Homo sapiens: one gene and its partners. The protein of the gene in region 1 purifies or fractionates together with the protein of each later gene. This does not show direct contact. Each region holds a gene or a part of one and is shown in the gene's direction. Other genes may lie near its edges.

Region 1 (8,046 bases):
CAGGTCTTTGCCAATCACAAGCAGCCAAGCTTCAGCTAAGTGCAAGCAGCCAACGGACTGGCTCATGTCTAAATCAAGCAAAACACTTAGCTGCAACAAATCAAACTATTTATGTACTTTACCTTCCTGTTCTGCTTATAAATACTCATTGCTTACAGTTGCAGAGCTCTCGGAACCTCTTCTGGTTCTGAGTACTGCCTGATTCAAGAATCATTCTTTACTCAAATAAACTCCATTAAATTTAAATTGTCTGAGGTTTTTCTTTTAACACTAAATACCCCTCTCAGCAATAGGAAGATGATAGCCCATAGAAGTGAATATATTTTTCTTTTTGTTGTCTCTACTCCATTTTATCCACAACAGGGCCCAACCTAAAAATAATAATAATAACAACAGTAATAGTATGTGGAGATAGACTGTAAGGACTCAGATCAATGTTTTATTATTCTGTGATTCTTAAAGTAAATATACATGAGTCCATACTGATATAAATAACTGACTGAATAAATAAATAAATAGAAAGAAGGGACAACTCTCCTGTCAAAAGAATTCCAATTAATAAATGAAAAAAACTAAGGAAATAGAGAATCACCATTAGAACACCACAGTAACAACTGCTGCAGGCAAGATCCACTGATGAATAATAAAACTGATGGGTGACAGTTTAGGGAGCAACTGGATATTTGCATAGCCTCAAAGTATCTCCCCCAAATATTTATTAGTTACCATGGTAGTGTTAACGTATATCCACAACTTCTTTAATATTCTTCCCTCCAGTGGATGGACTTAATCTACTCAACCCTCACTCCCAGGATGGGCTGCACTTACTGACTCCCTTCCAAAAACTAGGGTTTGGATAGGGAAAAATGGTGACTTTACAGTGCAGAAATTTTCCAGTTGCTCCGCCTTAACCAGGTGACCAAGGTAAACACCACCAGTGATGAGTCATGTTGATATCCCTGTACCTCATGACATGATTCAAGAAGGGCACCTTACCTCTGTGGTAATCTTCCCAAAAGTCCACAACCTTAGTCTTACTCTGAGGAAATATCAGACAAACCCAAATGAAGGGACATGCCACAAAATAGCTGATCAATACTCTTCACAAGTGTCAAAGTCATGAAACACTAGAAAAGGCCAAGAAACTCTCATAGATATGGGAAGAATAAAGAGACATGACAACAAAATTCTGTATGTATGCTGGACTGGATCCTGGAACAGAAAAAGAACACTAATGAAAAAACTGGTGAAATCTGAGCAAAACCTGCAGTTCAGTTAATAGTAACGTACCAGGCTGGGCACAGTGGCTCATGCCAGCACTTTGGGAGGCTGAGGCAGGGGGATCACGAGATCAGGAGTTGGAAACCAGCCTGTCCAATATGGTGAAACCCCGTCTCTACTAAAAAATACAAAAAATTAGCTGAGCGTGGTGGCACACGCCTGTAGTCCCAGCTACTTGGGAGACTGAGGCAGAAGAATCGCTTGAACCTGGGAGCCGGAGGTCGCAGTGAGCCAAGATTGCGCCACTGCACTCCGGCCTGGGTAACAGAGTGAGACTCCAGCTCAAAAAAAAAAAAAAAAGTAATGTACCAATGTTAATGTATTGGTTTTTATCATTATCATACTTATGTAAGATTTTCACATTAGGTAAAGCTGGATGAGGGGTATTCAGAAACCTTGTACTATCTTTACAAGTCTTCTATAAATCTAAAACATTTCCAAATATAAAAAGCTTTTTAAAATAAGTGATTGATCTACCTTTGAAATGAAACCTTAAATTACCACGCTGAATTAGCTCTTGGACACTTTAAAATTATGATTACTGGAGAAAAACAAAAATGTAGCTGGGCATGGTGGCTCATGCCTGTAATCCCAGCAGTTTGGGAGGCCGAGGTGGGAGGATCACTTGAGCCCAGGAATTCAAGACCAGACTGGGAAGCATGGTGAAACCCCACCTCGACAAAAAACAAAAATTAGCTGGGTGTGGTGACATACACCTGTAGTCCCTGCTACTCAGGAGGCCAAGGTGGGAGAATTGCTTGAGCTTGGGGGGCAGAGGTTGCAGTGAGCCAAAATTGAACCACTGCACTTCAGTCTGAGCGAGAGTGAGATCATGTCTCAAAAAAAACAAGGTGGGCTGTGGTGGCTCACATTTGTAATCCCAGCACTTTGGAAGGCCAAAATGGGTGGATCACCTGAGGTCAGGAGTTCAAGACCAGGCTGGCCAACATAGTGAAAGCCCATCTCTACCAAAAACACACAAAAAATTAGCTGGGCGTGGTGGTGGGCACCTGTAATCCCAGCTACTTGGGAGGCTGAGGCAGAGAGAATTGCTTGAACCCAGGAGGCAGAGGTTGCAGTGAGCTGCAATTGTGCTACTGCACTCCAGCCTGGGCAACAGAACAAGACTCCATCTCAAAAAAAAAAAAAGTTTAGTTTCAGTGGTTGTTGAACAATTAGTTTACTCTGCAAGTAGGTAATGATAACATCATTTTTCATTCCATTTTGCATGCTCTTCTCCATGTAGGGGTTTACCTCGTATCTCTGTATTCTGATAGCCTGGAGTTGTTTTCCTTATTGATACAAATGAAAAGTGGAATCTTTATATGTTTTCCAATTTATTAAATTAGTAATGTTAAAAATAATTTTAACAAAGTTAAATGGAATTATTTTAAAATTCTGTTTCTTTGCAGTAAATGTAATCCCAATATAAGACAATATGACTCACATATTTGTGAAAACGAATAGGGCCAATCGTTTCCATTATCACCAAAATTATCTATAGTGAGGCCTCTCCATCTTCTACCAGTCCCTCTTTTTTTTCACTCACTCAAAATATATGTATCGATGGTCAAATGTGTCCCAGACATTGTGCAAATCTCTGACAAAGGTAACACAAGAAAATGTGTACTCTGAGAACTTCTTATTCTGCCCCAGTTTAGGAGATTCATGCAACTGCCAAGCAACAATAATAAGAGCTAGCAGTTATTGGAGTACCTCATTCCTCACAACTCGTCATAAGGCAGGTGTTATCATTAGATATTCCCCATGTGTATGCAGGATGAGGAAATAGGTTCAGAGAGGTCAAGTGGCTCACCCAAGGGGCACAGCTAAGTGAAAGGCACTGCAGGCATCTCAAACTACCCCCTTCCCACAAGACTCCACTGCAGAGCAGGACAGTCACCCTGACACCAGCCCAATGGGTTCATCTTGCCCATTACCCAGATGGGGCTAATTTATCAAGACAAGGGAATTGCAATAGAGAAAGAGTTTAATACACATAGAGCCAGCTAAACAGGAGACCAGAGTTTTATTATTACTCAAATTAGCCTCCCAAAATTCGGAGGCAGAGGCTAGGGGACTTTGTGGGTTTTTTTGTTTTTGTTTTTGTTTTTCTTTTGAGAGGGAGTCTTGCTATGTCACCCAGGCTGGAGTGCAGTGGCATGATCTCGGCTCACTGCAACCTCTGCCTCCCGGATTCAAGCAATTCTCCTGACTCAGCCCCCCGAGTAACTGGGATTACAGGCACATGCCACCATGCCCGGCTAATTTTTGCATTTTTAGTAGAGACAGGGTTTCACCATGTGGGCCAGAGTGGTCTTGAACTCCTGACCTCAAGTGATCCACCCACCTCAGCCTCCCAAAGTGCTGGGATTACAGGCGTGAGCCACCATGCCCGCCGGCTAGAGTTTTTTAATGATAGTTTGATGGGCAAGGGGCTAGAGAATGGGTGCTGCTAATTGGTTGGGGATGCAATCACAGGGGTGTGGAAAACCGTCCTCAGTGCACCGAGTTGCATTTGGATGCGGGCCACAGAGGAGTCACTGGTCCAGGTGGAGTCATCCTGTCATTAGAAATGGAAAAGTCTGAGAAGGTATCTTCAAAGGCCAGTCTTAGGTTCTACAAAAGTGGTTATTTACAGGAATAATTGGGGAAGTTGCAGAGCTTGTGACCTCTGGAACAATGTCTGGTAATTGTTAATGCCTACATCTTAGCAGAATTCAGGCCCCTCTCATAATCCTAAACTTGTGGACTTTTATTAGTTTTATAAAACTGGTTTAGTTTGGGGAAGGGCTATTATCATTTAAACTATAAACTAAATTTCTCCCTATATTAGCTCGTCCCATGCTCAGGAATGACCAAGGGCAGTTTGGAGGTTAAAGGCACGATGGAGTTGGTGAGTTCAGATCTGTTTCACCTTCGTAATTTTCTCACTGTTAAAATTTTTGCAAAGGCGATTGCAGCGCCCCTTGTCCACACCTGCGCGCTCCCCAAGGGGTCCCTACCCACCCCGCCCCTGGCTGGGGGCCGTAGGCTGGCCCTGCCCCGCTGCGCCGGAGGTGGACCTCTACCAGGGCAGTTTCTCTCTGAGGCTGCGCGCTAAGGCGGTGGGCGGTCCCAGGCAGGCCCAGAAGCTGGGCAGCCTCTGCCGGGTTCCGGGAAAAGGAGCTCCTGCTGCCACTGCTCTTCCGGAGCCTGCAGCATGGGGCCCCTGCCGCGCACCGTGGAGCTCTTCTATGACGTGCTGTCCCCCTACTCCTGGCTGGGCTTCGAGGTGACGCTGGGAGGGGTCGCCTCGGCAGTGTCTGGGGAGTGAGGGCGGAGGGAAGAGTGAGCGCAGGGCTCCGGGACAGAGGTCTCGTGTAACTCCTGGCGCCGCCCAAGGGGTTAAGGCAAGCAGGGAGAGCTCCGGGGCTGAAGGTCACTTTGTGCTTTTAAACGGAATAGAGTCGCTGGCTCCAACCCGAGCCTTTATATCCCGACTGCAGTTTCCCACGGTGGTGGAAAGAGGGGCGGCTCCAAACATTCAGGGAGAAATGCAGAACACGGCCACCTCTTAGCCCAACGATGGCAGTTTTGGGGAAAACTGGCCACAGGAGCGAAGATCCTGGAATAGATTTCTAGTAGTGAGGAGAGTTTTGCCAATTTCAAACCAAACAATGTAGGGTGTCCGCATAACCCCTGCTCTGCACTTAGCGCCTCCCTTCCCTTTCCCTCGGCTCTTTCACTTTTCCATCTTGCACACTGGCAATCGTTCTTGACCTCTGCCCGCAGATCCTGTGCCGGTATCAGAATATCTGGAACATCAACCTGCAGTTGCGGCCCAGCCTCATAACAGGGATCATGAAAGACAGTGGTAGGAAGGGAGGGTCGGGGCAGGGGTGATCTCAGTGGCCCAAGAGAGCCGACCCCAGCGGGTCCTTATATTGGCACTGGCAGCCAGAAAGCTGCCCTCTGCCCCGTCTCTACTAAAAATACAAAATTAGCCGGGCGTGGTAGTGCATGCCTGTATACCACAGCTACTCGGGAGGCTGAGGCGGGAGAATCGCTTGAACCCAGGAGGCGGAGGTTGCGGTGAGCTGAGATCGCACCATTGCACTCCAGCCTGGGCAACAAGAGCGAAACAACAAGAGAAAAAAAAGGAAGCTGCCCTCTGCCCAAAACCCACGTCGAGGTCCCCAAACCTGGGACCCTTAGGTCTTTTCTCACTTAGCGTGCCCAACCTTCTCCTGGCAGGAAACAAGCCTCCAGGTCTGCTTCCCCGCAAAGGACTATACATGGCAAATGACTTAAAGCTCCTGAGACACCATCTCCAGATTCCCATCCACTTCCCCAAGGATTTCTTGTCTGTGATGCTTGAAAAAGGTGAAGAGAGTGGGATGTAGACAGGGTATCCAGTGAAAAACACAGAAGTCGGAGATTGAGGGATTGATAGGATGGAGGGGCTGCGGGAGACTAAAGCAAGTGAAGCCTGCCTTGGGAAACCTCAGGATCAGCCTTGAGCGAGCTGAAGGTTGCCGGGCATGAAAGGGAAGAAGAGCAGGCAAATAGGTCATGGGAACCTTGGGTGAGAGGCTGAGGGCGGAGGAGCTCTGGGGGATGTCAGAAGCAAGGAAGAGCTAGTCCTCCACCAGGAAAGCAGCAAGAGGAGCCCTGCCTCTGGGTGCCTCTGCCCCACAGGAAGTTTGTCTGCCATGCGTTTCCTCACCGCCGTGAACTTGGAGCATCCAGAGATGCTGGAGAAAGCGTCCCGGGAGCTGTGGATGCGCGTCTGGTCAAGGGTGAGTGTGGGGCTCTGGGAATCCTCTGGGAGGACCTTGGATGACTTTCTGACCTTCCCCAGGCACGTTTTCAGGGTCATGATCCTGCCCCCGCCCGGGGGATCTACTGTCCTCCCAGTCACACCCCTCTCCCCGCACCGCCTTCCTGCTGTCTTCTCTTCTTCCCAGAATGAAGACATCACCGAGCCGCAGAGCATCCTGGCGGTGAGTGTCCTGGCTCCACCCCAACTGCACTCATAGAGAATCTGAGAACAGTTGGCGTTTGGGGGTAAAGAAGACAATAGGTCTCTTATTGCATGGAAAAGGTTATAATTACTGGGGAAGAAAGGATGTCTGTGATTCAGGGCACAAACTACTGAAAAGTTGGAACTAAGGATCCTCAAAAGGATATCTCAAGGTTGAAAGGGGAAGTGCAAAAGGGACAATATATGGGAAGAATTTATTTGCTGAAAGATGTCAGTGAGAGAAAGATGCTCAGTGTTGGAACCCCTGGATGGGGAGGGATATAGTATTCACAAGTCTCCACAAACTCCAACACAAACCTCACCAACACATCCAGAGTGGAAGGCAGGAGACTTGTTCCAAGAGGCTTTAAAAAGACGAAAAGAGATAACTAATGCCAGGGTTATATAGGAGCCTGAGTGAGAACAAATGGAAATAGCTCAAAACATTGACCAGTGAGCCATGGATGGGGGTATAAAAGTAAGTTTGTCTTCAGGATTAAATTAGGAAATTCAAAACAGTATTATTCCTCTGGTTTACAAAAAAAAATAGTTGAGACCTATTCAAATTTAATATATAAAGTGGCAAATCACACAAAAGTTAAACGTATAAGGAATGGCAAATATATCTTCTACAGTCTATACTCCTGCAAAGTACATGTGTAATTTTTAGCTTGCTTTTTTACTTCATATTTAATCATTTTCCATGCTTTTTTTTTTTTTTTTTTTTTTTTTGAGACACGGTCTGGCTCTGTCGCCCAGGCTGGAGTGCAGTGGTGTGACCTCGACCCACTGTACCCTTTGCCTCCTGGACTCAAGCAATCTTCCCACCTCAGTCTCCTGAGTAGCTGGGACTACAGGCACACACTACCATGTCTGGCTAACTTTTTTATTTTTTGTAGAGAAGGGGTTTCACTGTGTTGCCCAGGCTGGTCTCAAACTCCTGTGCTCAAGAGATCTGTCTGCCTCCACCTCCCAAAGTGCTGTGTTTACAGGAATGAGCCACTGTGCCCAGCCTCCATGGAATTCTTAACTCTGAAAGTATAGTTCTTTGTTTCTATAGAGGTTCCACTGAGTGGACTTATTTTTGTTTTGCTTAACCATTTTTCTGTGGTTAAACATTTTGTGTAGGACATAATTCTCTAATTTAACCAAGTCAAAGATAGTGTCTCATTAGGACAGGCTACATGAATTCCTGGGTCCCACTTCTGATCTAGGAAGTCAAGTTGCAGTGGTTGTCAATCTTGGCTGTGAATTAAAATCACCTGGAGCACCTTGGCGCTAACCCTTTCCCCTGGAATTGTGATGTAATTGTTCTTGTTCTTTTTTTTCTTTCTTTCTTTTTTTTTTTTTTTTTTTTTTTTTTGAGACAGTGTCTTGCTTTGTCACCCAGGCTGGGGTGCAGTGGCATGATCATGGCTCACTGCAGACTCAACCTCTTGGGCTCAAGTGATCTCGCATCTCAGCCTTACGAGTAGCTGGGACTTCAAGCATGTGCCACCATGCCTAATTTTTTAAAAATTTTTTGTAGAGATGGGGGTTTCACTTTGCTGCCCAGGCTGGTCTCGAACTCCTGGGCTGAAGCAATCTCCTGCCTCAGTCTCCCAAAGTGCTAGAATTACAGGCATGAGCCACAGTGCTTGGATCTAGTTCTAAGGGATGACCTCACGTGGAGATTTTTTAAAGCTCCTCAGGAGTTTCAGATGGGCAGCCAAAGTTAAGAACCATCTATCCCAAACTATACCAACAAACCACAAACTGAA
Region 2 (8,013 bases), on another chromosome or scaffold:
GCCTCACTCTTCCAGCCTCTTACTTCCTTCCATGCTCATCCCCTCGTGGGACTGGAGTCAGCCCCTCCCTGCCCCCTCCCCACTGAGAGCCTCCCATTGCACATGGCTCAGGTACGGCCACTCCCCCATGGCCAGTCTTGCCGAACCCAGCTCTGAGCGGGACCCACATGGAGCCACTAGTGGAATGGAGGATGTTAAAGGGAGAATTCCTCTGCTAGGCCTGTGAGGGTTGTCTGCCTGCTGATGGGCTTGTGCCCTCCAGCTGTGTCCATTCCTGCTCTCTCTTTCCTGTTCATTTCCTCCCAGGGCACAGGAAACCCACAGGAATACCAGGAATAGATGCCAGATTTCTCCTTCACCCTGGCTCGTTCTTCCTTCCCACTTTCTTGCCTTTTTTTCTTTCTTTTAAAGTTAACATTTAAAATGTGTAGTAGGCCGGGCGCAGTGGCTCATGCCTGTAATCCCAGCACTTTGGGAGGCCGAGGCGGGTGGATCATTTGAGGTCAGGAGTTCGAGACCAGCCTGGCCAACATAGTGAAACCCCGTGTCTACTAAAAATACAAAAATTAGCCAGGCATGGTGGCGCACACCTGTAGTCCCAGCTACTCAGGAGGCTGAGGCAGGAGAATCGCTTGAACCTAGGAGGCGGAGATTGCTGTGAGCTGAGATCACGCCACTGCACTCCAGCCTGGGCGACAGAGTGAAACTCTGTCTTAAAAAAATAAAAAATAGACCATCCTGGCTAACACGGTGAAACCCTGTCTCTACTAAAAATACAAAAAATTAGCCCGGCGTGGTGGCGGGTGCCTGTAGTCCCAGCTACTCGGGAGGCTGAGGCAGGAGAATGGCGTGAACCTGGGGGGCGGAGCTTGCAGTGAGCCAAGATCACACTACTGCACTCCAGCCTGGGCGACAGAGCGACACTACGTCTCAAAAAATAAAAAAAAAAAATAAATAAAAACTAAAATATGTAGTAATGCTCCCCAACTCCCACTGCTGATTTGAGAAGTAATGTGTTGTTAAAATTTGGAAAATACAAAAAGGTATAAAGAAAAAAAGAAAAGTCTCATGTAGTCCTGCAGCTTGAGAAAAGCACTTTTTACATTTTGATATTTTTCTTTCCCACCTTTCCAAGATGCATTGGTGAATACTTTTGGAAATGTGGTTGGGATATACACAGTTTTAGATCCTGTTGCTTTCACTGAACATTAGATTTGAAATTTTTCCATGCCATTAAATATTATTTTACAATATCATCCTTCAGTTACTGCGTGAATTTTCTGTTATATAGATTTACCAAGATTTAGTTTTTTATTGGTTTAAACAGTGCCGCGGTGAGCATCATGATTATTTTCACAAAATAAATTTTTTTGTTTTGTTTGAGTCAGGGGTCTCACTCTGTTGCCCAGGCTGGAGTGCAGTGGCATGATCATGACCCACTACAGCCTTAAACCCCTGGGCTCAAGTGATCCACCTGCCTCAGTTTCCCGAGTAGCTAGGACCATAGGCATGCGCCACCACCCCTAGTTAATTTTTTTGTAGTTTTTGTAGAGATGGGGGTCTTTCCATGTTGCCCAGGCAGATCTTGAACTTCTGGCCTCAAGTGATCCTCCCACCTCACCCTCCCAAAGTGCTGGGATTACAGGCATAAGCCACCACCCTGGTCCACAAAATAAATTTCTAGAAGTGAAATTGGTTTGCTGATTCATTGCCTAACCTGAGCACTGTCTCTGTTCTCAGGGTACAAGCTTTAAAGTCCCTTTCTCTGCTTAGAGTTCCAATCCCAAGTGAATTCTCCCATCACTCCGTGCCATGGCCCTTGCAGCATTGTGCCATAAGCCGCTCCCAGGCAGCAGGAGGTCGGGAATGCTTAGGGTCCTTGTCACTGCATGTCCAGTATTGCACGGATCACACTGTGCCCTGGTACCCTTGGTGACTCCTTTCATTGAGAGCCGTCTCAAGATCCTTTTGGGGGAATTGCATAGCCCAGAAGTTTTCTCTTAGGTGAATAAGCCCTTACAACTCTCATTGCAGTGGGAAGATGCCAGAAGTGGACTATGTAGTTCTGTCGGAATGGTTTGACTGGATCTTGAGGAACATGGACGTGTCTGTTGATTTGATAGGTGAGATGCACCCCTCCCACCTCCCTCTCTTGTCTCTCTCCTGGGTCCCTTGAGGATGTGCTTGGCTGGGCCCCAACCCTTGGGGGCAGTGGGTGAGGCACTTGCCCTTGGCAGTTCCTTCCCCATGGGAGTTCAGCTTTCTCCCTGAGGGCAGACAGAATTCGGGACTTCTGGTCTCTCATGGAGAAGAACCCTGGCCTTTGTTCTTTAAACTTCCCTCCCTGGCTCAGCTACTTTCAGACCCAAATCCACTGTGATCTGATGGGTTTTTCTAGTTTGCAAAGGAACAGGAAGGACAGAGCCTGAACATTCACTGAGACCTGCTGGGTGTGAGGCCTGTTTTGAGCTCTGTCTATGAACAGAATCCCATTCAGCCTCAAAACGACCCCACGGGGCCGCTGACACTGAAAGAGAATGAAAGTCGAGGCGGAGGGTCAGTGGTCAAGCCAAGAGCTGGCCCTCCCTGCTTCCTGCTCGAGCTGTGCAGACCTTCCTCCCGCCTTTGCCTGTGTGCCTGCTTTGCTTCCAAGCCATGAGCAGAGTCCTGAGAGCCACGTATTCTTTTAACCTCAGTTTACCTTCGGACCAATCCTGAGACTTGTTACCAGAGGTTAAAGAAGAGATGCAGGGAAGAGGAGAAGGTCATTCCGCTGGTAAGAGGCCTCTTTGACTTGGTTAAAGACAAACTGGGAAACCACCTCTGTCCAACCCGGCTTCCTCTCCCGGCCCCACCCCCATGAGATCATTGTGCCCTTGTTTGCAGAGAGAGAACAGGAACCAAGTGTATCAGAGGGTGAACTCTGACTTCCTGTTTGGCCAGAGACCCACGTGGATGTCCAGATCTGCTTGGCTTCCTGTGGTCGCTGACTCACAGTTTGGCAACCCTCCTGCTTGGAGGCGTTCCCCTCCCCTCCCCACCTGCCCCTCCCCATCTTGGCAGCACCAGGGCTTGTCTGTTCTGCCTCCTGAAGATTGCCTGGCCTTGTGCTCTCTGTGTCCTCCCTAGAATGCGAGTTCCAGGAGGGCAGGACCCAGCCCTCTTGTTCACTGCTGCATCCCTAGTGCTTAGCACAGTGCCCGGCACGGAGGCGGTGCTCATGCTTAGTGGTGTTTGCCCACTGGAGAGATGCCATGCCCTTCTGAGTTCTGCTCAGGCCACACTGACTCTCATGGGGACTCTGCCAGTATAGGCCCGGGCTGTGCATCTCGCCCTGGCCCTTCCCTCCTTGCATCTCCCTTCAAAATCTGGCCTCCAGGCTGCCGCCCGGCTGATATTTCCAATACTCATCACCACTCGTGCAATTTCCCAGCCCAGAACCTTTCAGTGCCTTGCTGCTGGCTAGAATGCAGTCCCCACTTTGTAATACGGCTTATGACCCGGCCCCAACTGCCTCTCTGGCGTTATCATCCTCCATTCCCTACTTTCTATGCTCTGGCTATAAGGAACTAGTTGTGGCCACACACAAACAACCACATACACAGTGGAGTTATGCAAATGTGCCTTTGCACAGTCGTTTCCTTTGTCTTTAAAGTGTTACTCAGATGTCACCTCCTCCAGGAAGCCACCCCTGACCTTCCTTCCATTGTAACCCCCCCCAAACCCACCCCCTGGCTTTCTGTGATCATGGGCCTTAGGACAGCATACTGACACTATTTGTTTATACCTTTGTTCCCCATCCCTCACTAATGTGAGCTTTTTAAGATTGGGTCTTATTCCCTCCGTGTCCTCTGCATGTGCCTTGGGGCCTGGTGCCTAGTAGTTGCTCAGTTAGTATTGAACTGAATGTCCCATGTGAGAAGCTGCCACTGGAGGGAGACAGAGGCTGGGCAAGCATTCAGTGGGGTGTCAGGGGCTCTGAGCTCAGGATAGGCTGGACTGGGGGCCCTGGGAAGCCTATCCAACTCCTGAAATCCTGCTCAGCCTTGTTTTTCCTTGGTGCCAGCACGATGCATTCCTGCCACGAGGGCCCAGGCGTCACTCTGGGCAGCTCCTTTGAAATCTTGGAGACAAGAATGCTAGGAAGATGGAATGTGGTGGAATGGGGCCAGGCTGGACCATGCTGTGATGCGCACAGCAGCTCTGTGCAGTGACCCAGATGCTCCCCAAGCCTGGGGGCCGTCCAAGCCGTGATCCAAGCCATTGTCTTAAGGGTTTGACCAGGTCCATGGGACACATCTGGCTCCTATTGCCAAGGGAGAGCTGGGCAGGAGATGTAAAGGCTGCTGCAGAGTTGACACGCGAGCCTCTGGGATGGCGAGTGGAATCTGTGTGAGGAGCCATCCCACTCTGTGCCTGGGAGAGCACGAGTATCTGCTCTGCCTGGCATGCAGGCCCCATGGCTCAGGAGGGCCTGTGCCCCTTTTCCCTTGGGCTCCGCTGCATCAGGCTTTCTGCAGTTGGTGGTCTTTATAGTCTGGAGGGTCTATAGGTTACGAGTTGTTGAGGGGGTAGAAGGGCAATGGGTGAGGGTCACAGTCCTCTTGGTGGCAAGACAGAGCGGAGGGTTTAGAGGCTGCCCAGGGCTGGGCCCCTGCCTGAAGGAACTGAGGCCCTGCTGCTGCAAAAGTGGCAGTAAATGGGAGAAGCCAGGTGTGGGTCCTGCCTTTTTTTTTTTTTTTAGTATTTATTGATCATTCTTGGGTGTTTCTCGGAGAGGGGGATTTGGCAGGGTCATAGGACAATAGTGGAGGGAAGGTCAGCAGATAAACATGTGAACAAAGGTCTCTGGTTTTCCTAGGCAGAGGGCCCTGCCGCCTTCCGCAGTGTTTGTGTCCCTGGGTACTTGAGATTAGGGAATGGTGATGACTCTTAATGAGTATGCTACCTTCAAGCATCTGTTTAACAAAGCACATCTTGCATCGCCCTTAATCCATTTAACCCTTAGTGGACACAGCACACGTTTCAGAGAGCACGGGGTTGGGGGTAAGGTTATAGACTAACAGCATCCCAAGGCAGAAGAATTTTTCTTAGTACAGAACAAAATGGAGTCTCCTATGTCTACTTCTTTCTACACAGACACAGTAACAATCTGATCTTTCTTTTCCCCACATTTCCCCCTTTTCTATTAGACAAAACCGCCATCGTCATCATGGCCCGTTCTCAATGAGCTATTGGGTACACCTCCCAGACGGGGTGGTGGCCGGGCAGAGGGGCTCCTCACTTCCCAGACTGAGCGGCCGGGCAGAGGGGTCCTCACATCCTAGACGATGGGCGGCCAGGCAGAGACACTCCTCACTTCCTAGACGGGGTGGCAGCCGGGCAGAGGCTGCAATCTCGGCACTTTGGGAGGCCAAGGCAGGCGGCTGGGAGGTGGAGGTTGTAGCGAGCCGAGATCACGCCACTGCACTCCAGCCTGGGCAACATTGAGCACTGAGTGAACCAGACTCCGTCTGCAATCCCGGCACCTCGGGAGGCCGAGGCTGGCGGATCACTCGCGGTTAGGAGCTGGAGACCAGCCCGGCCAACACAGCGAAACCCCGTCTCCACCAAAAAATACGAAAACCAGTCAGGCATGGCGGTGCGCGCCTGCAATCCCAGGCACTTGGCAGGCTGAGGCAGGAGAATCAGGCAGGGAGGTTGCAGTGAGTCGAGTTGGCGGCAGTACAGTCCAGCCTCGGCTGGGCATCAGAGGGAAACCGTGCAAAGGGGAGAGGGAGAGGGGGAGGGGGAGGGGGTCCTGCCTTTTGCCTTGGCTTTGATTCAGGCGCCAGGGGAAGGGCCAGTGTTTGTGCCCACGAACCCCCAGTGGAGCAGAGCAGGGTGGCTGGTGACACTTGTGCTGTTTTGCTCAGCCTGGCCACCGAGTGTGTGGCTGCGTCTGCCGCTGTCCACTTGAGCCAGGTTTGCTCTTGCAGGGTTCCTTTGTCTGAGTCACTGCCCATGGTCATTGACTACTTTGACCCCCTCTGCTTGACACCCTTGGTAGGTGGGGTCTGCTCTGTCCACTCCCGACAGACTGCTTGTGTTTCCCTGGCAGGAATACCTGGAAGCAATTCACCATCTCCATGAGGAGTGGCTCATCAAAGGCAGCCTTTTCCCCATGGCAGCCCCTGTTCTGGTAAGTAAGACTCCCTTACAGGGTACGAGACTGTTCTAGAAAGAGGAGTGACCCGGGGAATGTCAGCCACCTTGCAGACAGGGGAGGGCACAGTCCTTTAGAGTTTGACAACTTAGAAGAAGGAAGGTGGGAAGGCTGGTGCTCTCTCTCCCAGTGCCTGTTTCTGGGCTGAGTCTCAGAGTGAGTTGGCCAGACCCGAGGGAAGGCAGTCTGTGCCAGTGCCATCACACCTGGCAGTTGTCACTGATCCAGCATCTTCAGCGAAGACTCTAGACCCGGGTCTCAGTTTTCACCATTTGGGATAGTAGTTCCTCTGATGTGACCTTCCTCCTTCCGTGGATGACACAGAGCCTCATTTCACCTTTGTTTGGTGACTCAGGTCATCAGAAGGAATGTCATTGTCTGGTCTGGGCTGTCACACAGTGATGCCCTTAGGAATGCTGAGGTGTGTGGAACTGTCTGCCCTGCCCACTAATGTCTCTGCGTTCCTGTGTTTACTTTTTACAGTAATCCTCCTTTCTCTTGCTGCCATGTGTCATTTCTGACTGATATTGATGTGTCTGTCCCGTCAGCATTTCCTTACTTCCCCATCTCCTTGTTTTCCAGTTTGCTGTTTCCAGATTTCTTTACTCAGACAAATAAGCAGTGGCCCAGATGCTCCCAAGAAATGCGGAGTCTGGGGTCCCTCCGAGTCTTGATTGGAGGGAACCTAAGATGGTTACATATACAACATGGGATTGGCTGTGAGGCAGGGTTGTGCGCAAGCTTTGGTGCATGGCTATAGGAGCATTGTTTGATGGGATGTGAGGCAGGGCTGTGCATGAGCTTTTGTGCGTGGCCATAGGAATATCTGTTTGGGCTCAAACACTTCTGCTTATGGCTCTTGCAGGCAGTGAGGTTGCCGGAAAGTGAGATATTACTGTAGTAATTTTTTGTTTGTTTGTTTTTGAGACAGAGCCTCACTCTGTTGCCCAGACTGGAATGCAGTGACGCAATCTCGGCTCGCTGCAACCTCTGCCTCCTGGGTTCAAATGATTCTCTTGCCTCAGCCTCCTGAATAGCTGGGACTACAGGCGCATGCCACCATGCCTGGATAATTTTTTATATTTTTCGTAGAGATGGGATTTTGCCACGTTGGCCAAGCTGGTCTCAAACTCCTGGCCTCAAGTGATCTGCCTGCCTCGGCCTCCCAAAATTCTGGGATCACAGGCGTGAGCCACTGCACCCGGCCTACTGTAGTAGATTTTTAAATAAGTACAGCTTATTTTTCTCCCTCATTATGGAAAAAAAGGAGGGTAGAAAGTGATGAGGGAAAAAAACAAATCATTCATGAGCTTACAGGGTCTCACTGTGTTGCCCAGGCTGGTCTCAAACTCCTGGGCTCGTGTAATCTTCAGGTCTCAGCCTCCCAAAGTGCTTGGATAATAGACATGAGCCACCATACCTAGCTCTTGTAGTACATTCTTAAGTGAAAACCTCATTGGAAATGTAGATTGCCCTAGAGCTGAAAGCGATTTGGCTCTAACCTTCCTTTTTATCTGCCTGCAACCTTCTGTGCCCTTCCCTGCCCCCTGCTGCCTGCTTCCATCTGTCTGTCTCCAGCTGTGAAAGGAGGATGCTGCTGAGGTCAGTGCAGCCTTGTGACCCATGTGTCTAATTTCCAGGTGATTGAGGCTGACCACCACATGGAGAGGATGTTAGAACTCTTTGAACAAAATCGGGATCGAATATTAACTCCAGAGAATCGGAAGCATTGCCCATAGGAGGCAAAAGGTCTATGGCTCATGTCTGAAAAATGCCTGCTGCTGCCAAGTTAGCTATTGGGAGCAATC
Region 3 (8,013 bases), on another chromosome or scaffold:
GAAATATATTGAAAGTAATGCTGTGCTTCACTGAACCTGCGATATCATGAAAACCCATCTTACCTCACAGCTGTGTTTCTCCTCAGAGCCACAGTCTGTATGAGGGATTTTTCAGAGACAGTTCTCTTCCTATTTTTCTCTGAGACCAAATGGCTTTGTTCATGTACTTTTTTAGTACTTGAAATAAATTAATGCAGAGTTTTGATACCCCCATGGAGCAAAAGGCTTCAAAAAAAAGGTAAGGGGGCCTTATTTAATTAACCCAGCAGTTTAAATTAAAAGCTAACAAAGATGGGAAATTTTATGCGTTTAAAACCAAAGAAAGCCTCTGCCCTGGCAAGGTGTATGCTCTGGTTCTAAATGATTATGCTCCCAATAACAGCAGTGCAGGGACTTCACACAAGACAGAGAAGGATGTGTAGCTCCAACTAGACAGAAAACAGCTCTCTGCAGGTTGTAACATGTAACACATATTCTTGGAATTGTGCTTGAACTTTGACAGAAAGCAAATATCTGTATTAAGAACACAGAACCCGTTTCCTTTTGGTTGTTCTTTTCTTTTTTTCTTTTTTTTTTTTTTTTTGGAAATGGGGTCTTGCTCTGTTGCCCAGGCTGGAGTGCAGTAATCTTGGCCCACTGCAACCTCCACCTCCCTGGTTCAAGCGATTCTCCTGCCTCAGCCTCCCCAGTAGCTAGGATTACAGGCACGTGCCACCATGCTCAGCTAATTTTTGTATTTTTAGTAGAGATGGGGTTTCGCCATGTGGGCGAGGCTGGTCTCAAACTCCTGACCTCAAGTGATCCACCTGCCTCGGCCTCCCAAAGTGCTAGGATTACAGGTGTGAGCCACTGCACCCGGCCCCTTTTGGTTTTTCAAAAGAAGTTTATCAGTAGGCTTTCTCCCATTTTGAGTTTTGAAAATTCTAATTTTTGTAGTGGTTATCTTCCAGTGCAGCAGCATTTGGAATAAATATGTGGAATTTTCTTTATTTTAATGATCAGCAAATAAGAAGTATGTTGAAAACAAAATAAAAAGGTGGGCCAGGCGCGGTGGCTTACGCCTGTCATCCCAGCACTTTGGGAGGCCAAGGAGGGCAGATCATTTGAGGTCAGGAGTTTCAGACCAGCTTGACCAACATGGTGAAACCCCAACTCTACCAAAAACTCAAATAATTAGGTGTGGTAGCAGACGCCTGTAATCCCAGCTACTCTGGAGGCTGAGACAGGAGAATTGTGTGAGCTTAGGAGGTGGGGGTTGCAGTGAGCTGAGATCACACCACTGTATTCCAGCCTGGGTGACAGAGTAAGACTCTGTCTCAAAATAAATAAATAAATAAAAATTAAAAATGTGGATTGAGGGTATCCTGCCAGACATATCTTTTCCTTTTGACCAAGATCTTCATTATCTTTTTTCTTTTTTTTTTTTTTTTTTTTGAGATGGAGTCTCGCTCTGTCACCTAGCCTGGAGAGCAGTGGCACAATTTCTGCTCACTGCAACCTCCATCTCTGAAGTTCAAGTGATTCTCAACCTCAGCCTCCTGAGTAGCTGAGATTACAGGTGCGCACCGCCACCCCAGCTAATTTTTGTATATTTAGTAGAGACAGGGTTTCACAATGTTGGCCAGGCTGGCCTCGAACTCTTGACCTCAAGAGATCCACCCACCTTGGCCTCCCAAAGTGCTGGGATTACAGGTGTGAGCCACCGCACCCAACCACTTCATTTTCAGATAGCGGCTGCTCCTAGAGCAAGAGTATGTTGAGCTGTGTGAGTCATATGGATGTATAATAATTCATGAAAGTATGCCTGACCTGTGTGTGATGTAGCACGGATAGTGTTGTTCCAGCTTGTTTTAGTTTTTATTAAAAATAGACCCAATCAGGCCGGATGCAGTGGCCCACACCTGTAATCCCAGCACCTTGGGAGGCCGAGGCTCCTTGAGCCCAAGAGTTTGAGACCAGCCTGGGCAACGTGGTGAGACCCTGTCTCTACTGTAAAAAAAAAAAAAAAAGAAAGAAAGAAAAAATAGACTTAAATCAACAATATAAATTGCAAAGCTGACTGGATATAAATTATTATTATTACTTTTTGAGCAGGGTCTTACTCATCACCCAGGCTGGAATGCAGTAGTGCGGTCACGGCTCACTGTATTCTTTTTTGTAGAGATGGAGTCTTCCTATGTTGCCCAGGCTAGTCTTGAACTCCTAGGCTCAAAGGATCCTCCTGGCTCAGCCTCCCAAAGTGTTGGGATTACAGGCATGAACCACCAAACCCAGCAAGGAGACAAATTATATATACACACACACACATATGTAATATGTATATAATATATTTTTATTTTTATTATTTCTTTTGAGACAGGGTCACACTCTGTTGCCCAGGCTGGAGTGCAGTGGCATGATCTTGGCTCACTGCAACATACACCTCCCAGGCTCAAGCAATTTTCCTACTGCAGCCTTCTGAGTACCTGGGACTACAGGCGCATGCCATAATGCCCAGCTAACTTTTGGTTTTTTTTGAGACGGAGTCTTGCTTTGTCACCCAGGCTGGAGTGCAGTGGCCTGATCTCTGCTCACTGCAACCTCCGCCTCCTGGGTTCAAGCGATTCTCCTGCTTCAGCCTCCTGAGTAGCTGGGATTACAGGTGCGGGCCACCACGCCTGGCTAATTTTTTTGCATTTTTAGTAGAGACGGGGTTTCACCATGTTGGTCAGGCTGGTCTCGAACTCCTGACCTCGTGATCCTTCTGCCTCGGCCTCCCAAAGTGCTGGGATTACAGGCGTGAGCCACCGTGCCCAGTCTAACTTTTGTATCTTTTTTGTAGAGACAAGGTTTTGCCATGCTGCCCAAGCTGGTCTCAAACTCCTGGGCTCAAGTGATCCACCTGTCTCAGCCTCCCAAAGTGCTAGGATTATAAGCTTGAGCCACTGTGCCTAGCCTTGGGAGATATATTAAATATATATTGAATTTGAAAGAAACTATTCTTACTGGTGTGGTATAAACAGACCAATCCTTGGCTCTGATTTCTGATGTGGTATGTTTTCTGTCTCCAAGGAGGGGGTATAAAAAATATGTAAAAGTGATAGTTCACTTTCTTTTCTTTTTTTTTTTTTTTGAGACAGGGTCTCACTCTGTTTCTCAGGCTGGAGTGCAGTGGAGCGATCTCTGCTCCCTGCAACCTCTGCCCCCCTGGTTCAAGCAATCCTCCCACCTCAGCCTCCCAAGTAGCTGGGACCGCAGGTGCATGTCACCACACCTGGCTAATTTTTTGTATTTTTAGTAGAGACAGGGTCTCACCATGTTGCCCAGTCTGGTCTCAAATTCCTGAGCTCCAGCAATCTGCCCGCCTTGGCCTCCCAAAATGGTGGTTTTACAGGTGTGAGCCACCATGCCCAGTCTCACTTCCTCAAACTTTACAGTAAAGTTGATTAGTCCATTGAACTTAAAGATTTAGTAACTATTTACTAATGTTAAATTCAAAAGGGTGCTAAGTGTTTTATTCTTATCTCCTGTCATACTGGATTTCAGATATCTTTTTTAACCTCAAGTTGTCTGGAAATAAACTGAGATTTGAATGATAGGATCTGATGTAAGGATCTCATTATAAGCTGAATAAACATGACATACTCCCTGTGTACTATGTCTGGGAATATTCTTTGACACTACAGTCTTAAAAATTATAATTTGTAACTTTCATTAAAGATCTACCTTAGATATGACAGAGATAAATGTAGTAATTTAATGGAATCACAAAACACTTCATTAAAAAAAATCTTTGTTGGCCAGGCGCAGTGGCTCAAGCTTGTAATCACAGCACTTTGGGAGGCCGAGGTGGGCGGATCACCTGAGGTCAGGAGTTCGAGACCAGCCTGGCCAACATGGTGAAACCCTGTCTCTACTAAAAATATAAAAATTAGCTGAGCATGGTGGCAGGCGCCTGTAATCCCAGCTACTCAGGAGGCTGAGGCAGGAGAATCACTTGAACCTGGGAGGCGGAGGCTGCAGTGAGCCAAGATCACATCACTATACTCCAGCCTGGGTGACGGAGTGAGACTCTGTCTCAAAAAAAAAAAATCTGTGTCATCCACTTTTCTGTAAGTCCTGGAAATATATGGACAAAAAGGCATGGTCTCTGCCCTTAGTGAGCTTACAGTGCAGTAGAGGGACAGTCACCCAACAGTTTGACCAGGTACCTTGAGAACAGAGGAAAGATTACCTAAATTTATGTTGGCAAGGTACTCAGACTTCATAGTGCTTACACTGAGTCTTTGAAGGAACAGGCATTTGTAAGGCAACAGAAGGACAAAGGAGGCTGGCTCGGTAGGGACCAGATCTAGAACAGGACTTCTGTGACTTACTAAGCACTTCGAGTTTAATTTCAGGAATGAGTAGGAATGCTGAAAGAATTTTGAAAAGGAGGGTAAAATAGATTTATATTTTTGGATAATTACTTTGTATTATTGGGGATAATGGTAGCATCATAGAGACTGGATTGGAAGATAATGAAGAACCAGTTAAAGAGGTATAATGCAGTAGTCCAGGGGAAAGATGATGAAGACATGAACTAAGGCAGCAATAGCAGAAATAACATGAGACGGAGAAAGGAAACAGCAGATTCTGCATCAGCACTTGGCAGTTTAGAAGGACATGTCATTGTCATCTGGTATGTGAGGATTCCCCTCCAATAAGTGTTACAAAGCTTGCTGGTTAGGAAGCCATCTTTAGCAGAGAATATTACCTATATAGGGTTACTTATTTTTCCCTGGGCACCTGTGAATGTGTAGTGCTTGATATTTGTAATTTAAAAAAAATTCTATAGAATATAAAATATAAAATCAAATCTGGATTTTATTTATAAAGAAGGTTTGCAAGTTGAACCTTGCGTCAAGATTTCCCATTGTTTCTGCAAAACTTATCGTTGGGTTTCGTTTTCCAGATTCTCCGGGCCCAAAGCCGAAGTGCAAGTGGAAGGAAGATCTCTGAAAACAGCTATTCTCTAGATGACCTGGAAATAGGCCCAGGTAAGCAGAGAGTTCCATGTGTATGAGGTCCTTTAGGAAGTACTCACTAGTAGTAACATCTTTTGGACTCGAAGCCAATGCTTTTAAAGGAAGAGTGGCACAAATTAAAAGGAAGTCTGCCTATTAGATGCAAGCCATTCTCAAATCTCATTGCTCTCGATAAATAGCTTTTTTTTTTTTTTTTTTTTTGAGACGGAAGTTGACGTGCTCCCAAAGTGCTGGGATTACAGGCATGAGCCGTCATGCCCGGCTGCTTTTTTCATATTTTTAATCCACCCTTGTTAGTGGTAACCTATGGTAAGCAAAGGGTACTTTGAGGAGCTATAAGTAAAGTGCTACGATCAGTTTTGCCTCCAGTCATCTGGGGTTTGAGGGCTTCAGTAGATGGGCTGTGTCCCCTATCAGGTTTGGTTACCCTGTATTACCAGTGATAACATAACACTTTGAGAGTGGAATTATGTTTTAAAGGGGACATATACAGGCACTTCACAAAAGAAAAAATTAGTAAAAACAGGAAAACATCAGCTACCTAGTCATCAAAGAAATGTAAATTAAAAAGCATTGAGATCTCTTCTTTTTCATGTTAAATTAGCCAGAATTTTAAAATACGAGCCCAGGCATGGTGGCTCAGACCTATAATCTCAGCACTTAGGGAGGCTGAGACAGGAGGACCACTTAAATCCAGGAGTTTGAGACCAGCCTGGGCAACATAGACCTATCTCTACAGAAAAAAAAAAAAAAAGCCCAGCGTGGTGGTGCATCCTTGAAGTCACTGCTACTTGGGAAACTGAGGTGGTTGGATCATTTGAGCCCAAGACTTCAAAGCTGCAGTGAGCTATGATTGTACCACTGCCCCATACTCTAGCCTGGGTGACAGAGTGAGACCCTGTCTCAAAAAATAAAATATGCAATCCTCAATTATGGTAAGGTTCTTTTAATGCTAAGAAAGTGAGTGAATATTACTTTATAAATGACAATTATATTCCTGATTTTCTTCTTCGTGCTTTTAACAGAAGATATTGGCCATTAGATAAAAATAACCCAAAATTTAGAATTTTGAAATTATTTGAATCACTTTTATCTTCTAATAAAACATGTTGGCCAGTCACGGTGGTTTACACCTATAATTCCAGCGCTTTGGGAGGCTGAGGCGGGAGGATATCTTGAGCTCAGGAGTTCGAGGCTGTAGTGAGCTATGATCGTGCCACTGCACTTCAGCCTGGGTGATAGAGTGAGACCCCATCTCAGAAATAAAATAAAACATGTTATTTGGATGCTTCCAGGTCAGTTGTCATCTTCTACATTTGACTCGGAGAAAAATGAGAGTAGACGAAATCTGGAACTTCCACGCCTCTCAGAAACCTCTATAAAGGATCGAATGGCCAAGTACCAGGCAGCTGTGTCCAAACAAAGCAGCTCAACCAACTATACAGTATGTGTTCTGCATCATTCATTCATTCATTCATTCCATCATCCAGCAGATGGTCACTGAGTACTGGAATTAGGAAATGTCACCAGACCCTTGTATCTGAGCCCTGGTCCCCTAGCTGTTCTCTTTTCACATGAACCCTACCCTCGCTGGATTTGCAGTTCTTACCATGGTCTAATCCTGACTTTGCTTTCTTAGTCCTGGTTCCCACCCCACTCACTTTTTTTGTGATGTTACCAGTGAGTATCATTGAGAGTTTCCCTGGCTCTTCTACTTAATCTTTGTGTTGTTAAAGAAGTAGTATTTTATTAGTTTTAATATAACTCTTATTTTATCTTGGTTGTTGAGGGAAGAAGGAAGAAGACTGAAGAGCTTATTTTGGCTTTTGAGGGAAGAAAGAAGAAGACTGGAGAGAAATATCAGCTGTGTTCATTAACGAGGGTTTTTTTTGTGATTTTTTACTGAGATATAACTCACATAATATAAAATCACCATTTTAAAGTATACAATCTTGTGATACTTAGCATATTCACAAGGTTGTACAACCATTACCACTGTTTAATTCCAGAACCTTTCCATCACCCTGAAAAGAAACTTCATACCTGTGTAGTCACTCCCAACTTCCCCTGCTCTCATCCCCTGGCAACCACTTAGCTACTTCCTGTCTTTATGTATCTGCCTATTTTGGAAATTTCATATGAAGGAGTCATACAGTAGATCTTCTACTTAATCTTTAATCCTTACGATGTACTGTTTTCCTAAAGAAGTAGAATAGTAGATAAGGAAAAGGGAGAGATCACAAGAAGGTGACGTGCTCAGTAAGCATGAAAATTTTGATATTCAGCTGGGTGTGATGGCTCACACCTGTAATCCCAGCACTTTGGGAGGCCGAGGTGGGCAGATTGCCTGAGGTCAGGAGTTCAAGACCAGCTTGGCTAACGTGGTGAAACCCCATCTCTACTAAAAATACAAAAATTAGCCAGCATGGTGGCAGGCACCTGTAATCCCAGCTACTTGGGAGGCTGAGGCAGGAGAATCGCTGGAACCCAGGAGGCAGAGGTTGCAGTGAGGCAAGATTGCGCCACTACACTCCAGCCTGGGCGACACAGCAAGACTCCGTCTCCAGGAAAAAAAAAAAAGATTGGTATTCAAAATACAATGGAGGGTCCTTCCCCTTTACGTTGTCCTGTGCTTAACGGGTAAGCTGATGCTACAGAACTGCTAAATTGAAGTTACCTTATAGCCAGGCGCAGGAGCTCACACCGTAATCCCAACACTTTGGGAGCCTGAGGTGGGTGGGTCATTTGAAGTCAGGAGTTCAGAACCAGCCTGGCCAACATGGTGAAATCCCGTCTCTACTAAAAATACAAAAAAAAAATTAGCCAGGTGTAGTGGCACACACCTGTAATCCCAGCTACTAGGGAGGCTGAGGCAGGAGAATCACTTGAACCTAGGAGATGGAGGTTACAGTGAGCTGAGATCACACCACTGTACTCCAGCCTGGGTGACAGGGTGAGACTCCATCTCAAAAAAAAAAAAAAAAAAAGGAAGTTACCTTTCAAATGC

The links.
Region 2: the proteins of GSTK1 (region 1) and TK2 purify together in Homo sapiens (co-immunoprecipitation; 3 studies listed by BioGRID and IntAct, with this or other methods). This does not show direct contact.
Region 3: the proteins of GSTK1 (region 1) and LIMA1 purify together in Homo sapiens (affinity purification with mass spectrometry; 2 studies listed by BioGRID and IntAct, with this or other methods). This does not show direct contact.

The regions. Positions count from the first base shown.
Region 1 is NC_000007.14:143,259,031-143,267,076, forward strand, and holds the start of GSTK1 (glutathione S-transferase kappa 1), read left to right. Parts: upstream 1-4,410; 5' UTR 4,411-4,483; coding exon 4,484-4,555; intron 4,556-5,055; coding exon 5,056-5,137; intron 5,138-5,517; coding exon 5,518-5,646; intron 5,647-5,961; coding exon 5,962-6,062; coding exon of another isoform or gene 6,063-6,230; coding exon 6,231-6,266; intron 6,267-8,046. UniProt on the Homo sapiens protein: Glutathione S-transferase that catalyzes the conjugation of glutathione to exogenous and endogenous compounds. Significant glutathione conjugating activity is found only with the model substrate, 1-chloro-2,4-dinitrobenzene (CDNB).
Region 2 is NC_000016.10:66,511,899-66,519,911, reverse strand, and holds part of TK2 (thymidine kinase 2, mitochondrial isoform 1 precursor), read left to right. Parts: intron 1-2,034; coding exon 2,035-2,123; intron 2,124-2,696; coding exon 2,697-2,776; intron 2,777-6,100; coding exon 6,101-6,181; intron 6,182-7,845; coding exon 7,846-7,944; 3' UTR 7,945-8,013. UniProt on the Homo sapiens protein: Phosphorylates thymidine, deoxycytidine, and deoxyuridine in the mitochondrial matrix. In non-replicating cells, where cytosolic dNTP synthesis is down-regulated, mtDNA synthesis depends solely on TK2 and DGUOK.
Region 3 is NC_000012.12:50,202,989-50,211,001, reverse strand, and holds part of LIMA1 (LIM domain and actin-binding protein 1), read left to right. Parts: intron 1-4,933; coding exon 4,934-5,018; intron 5,019-6,301; coding exon 6,302-6,450; intron 6,451-8,013. UniProt on the Homo sapiens protein: Actin-binding protein involved in actin cytoskeleton regulation and dynamics. Increases the number and size of actin stress fibers and inhibits membrane ruffling. Inhibits actin filament depolymerization.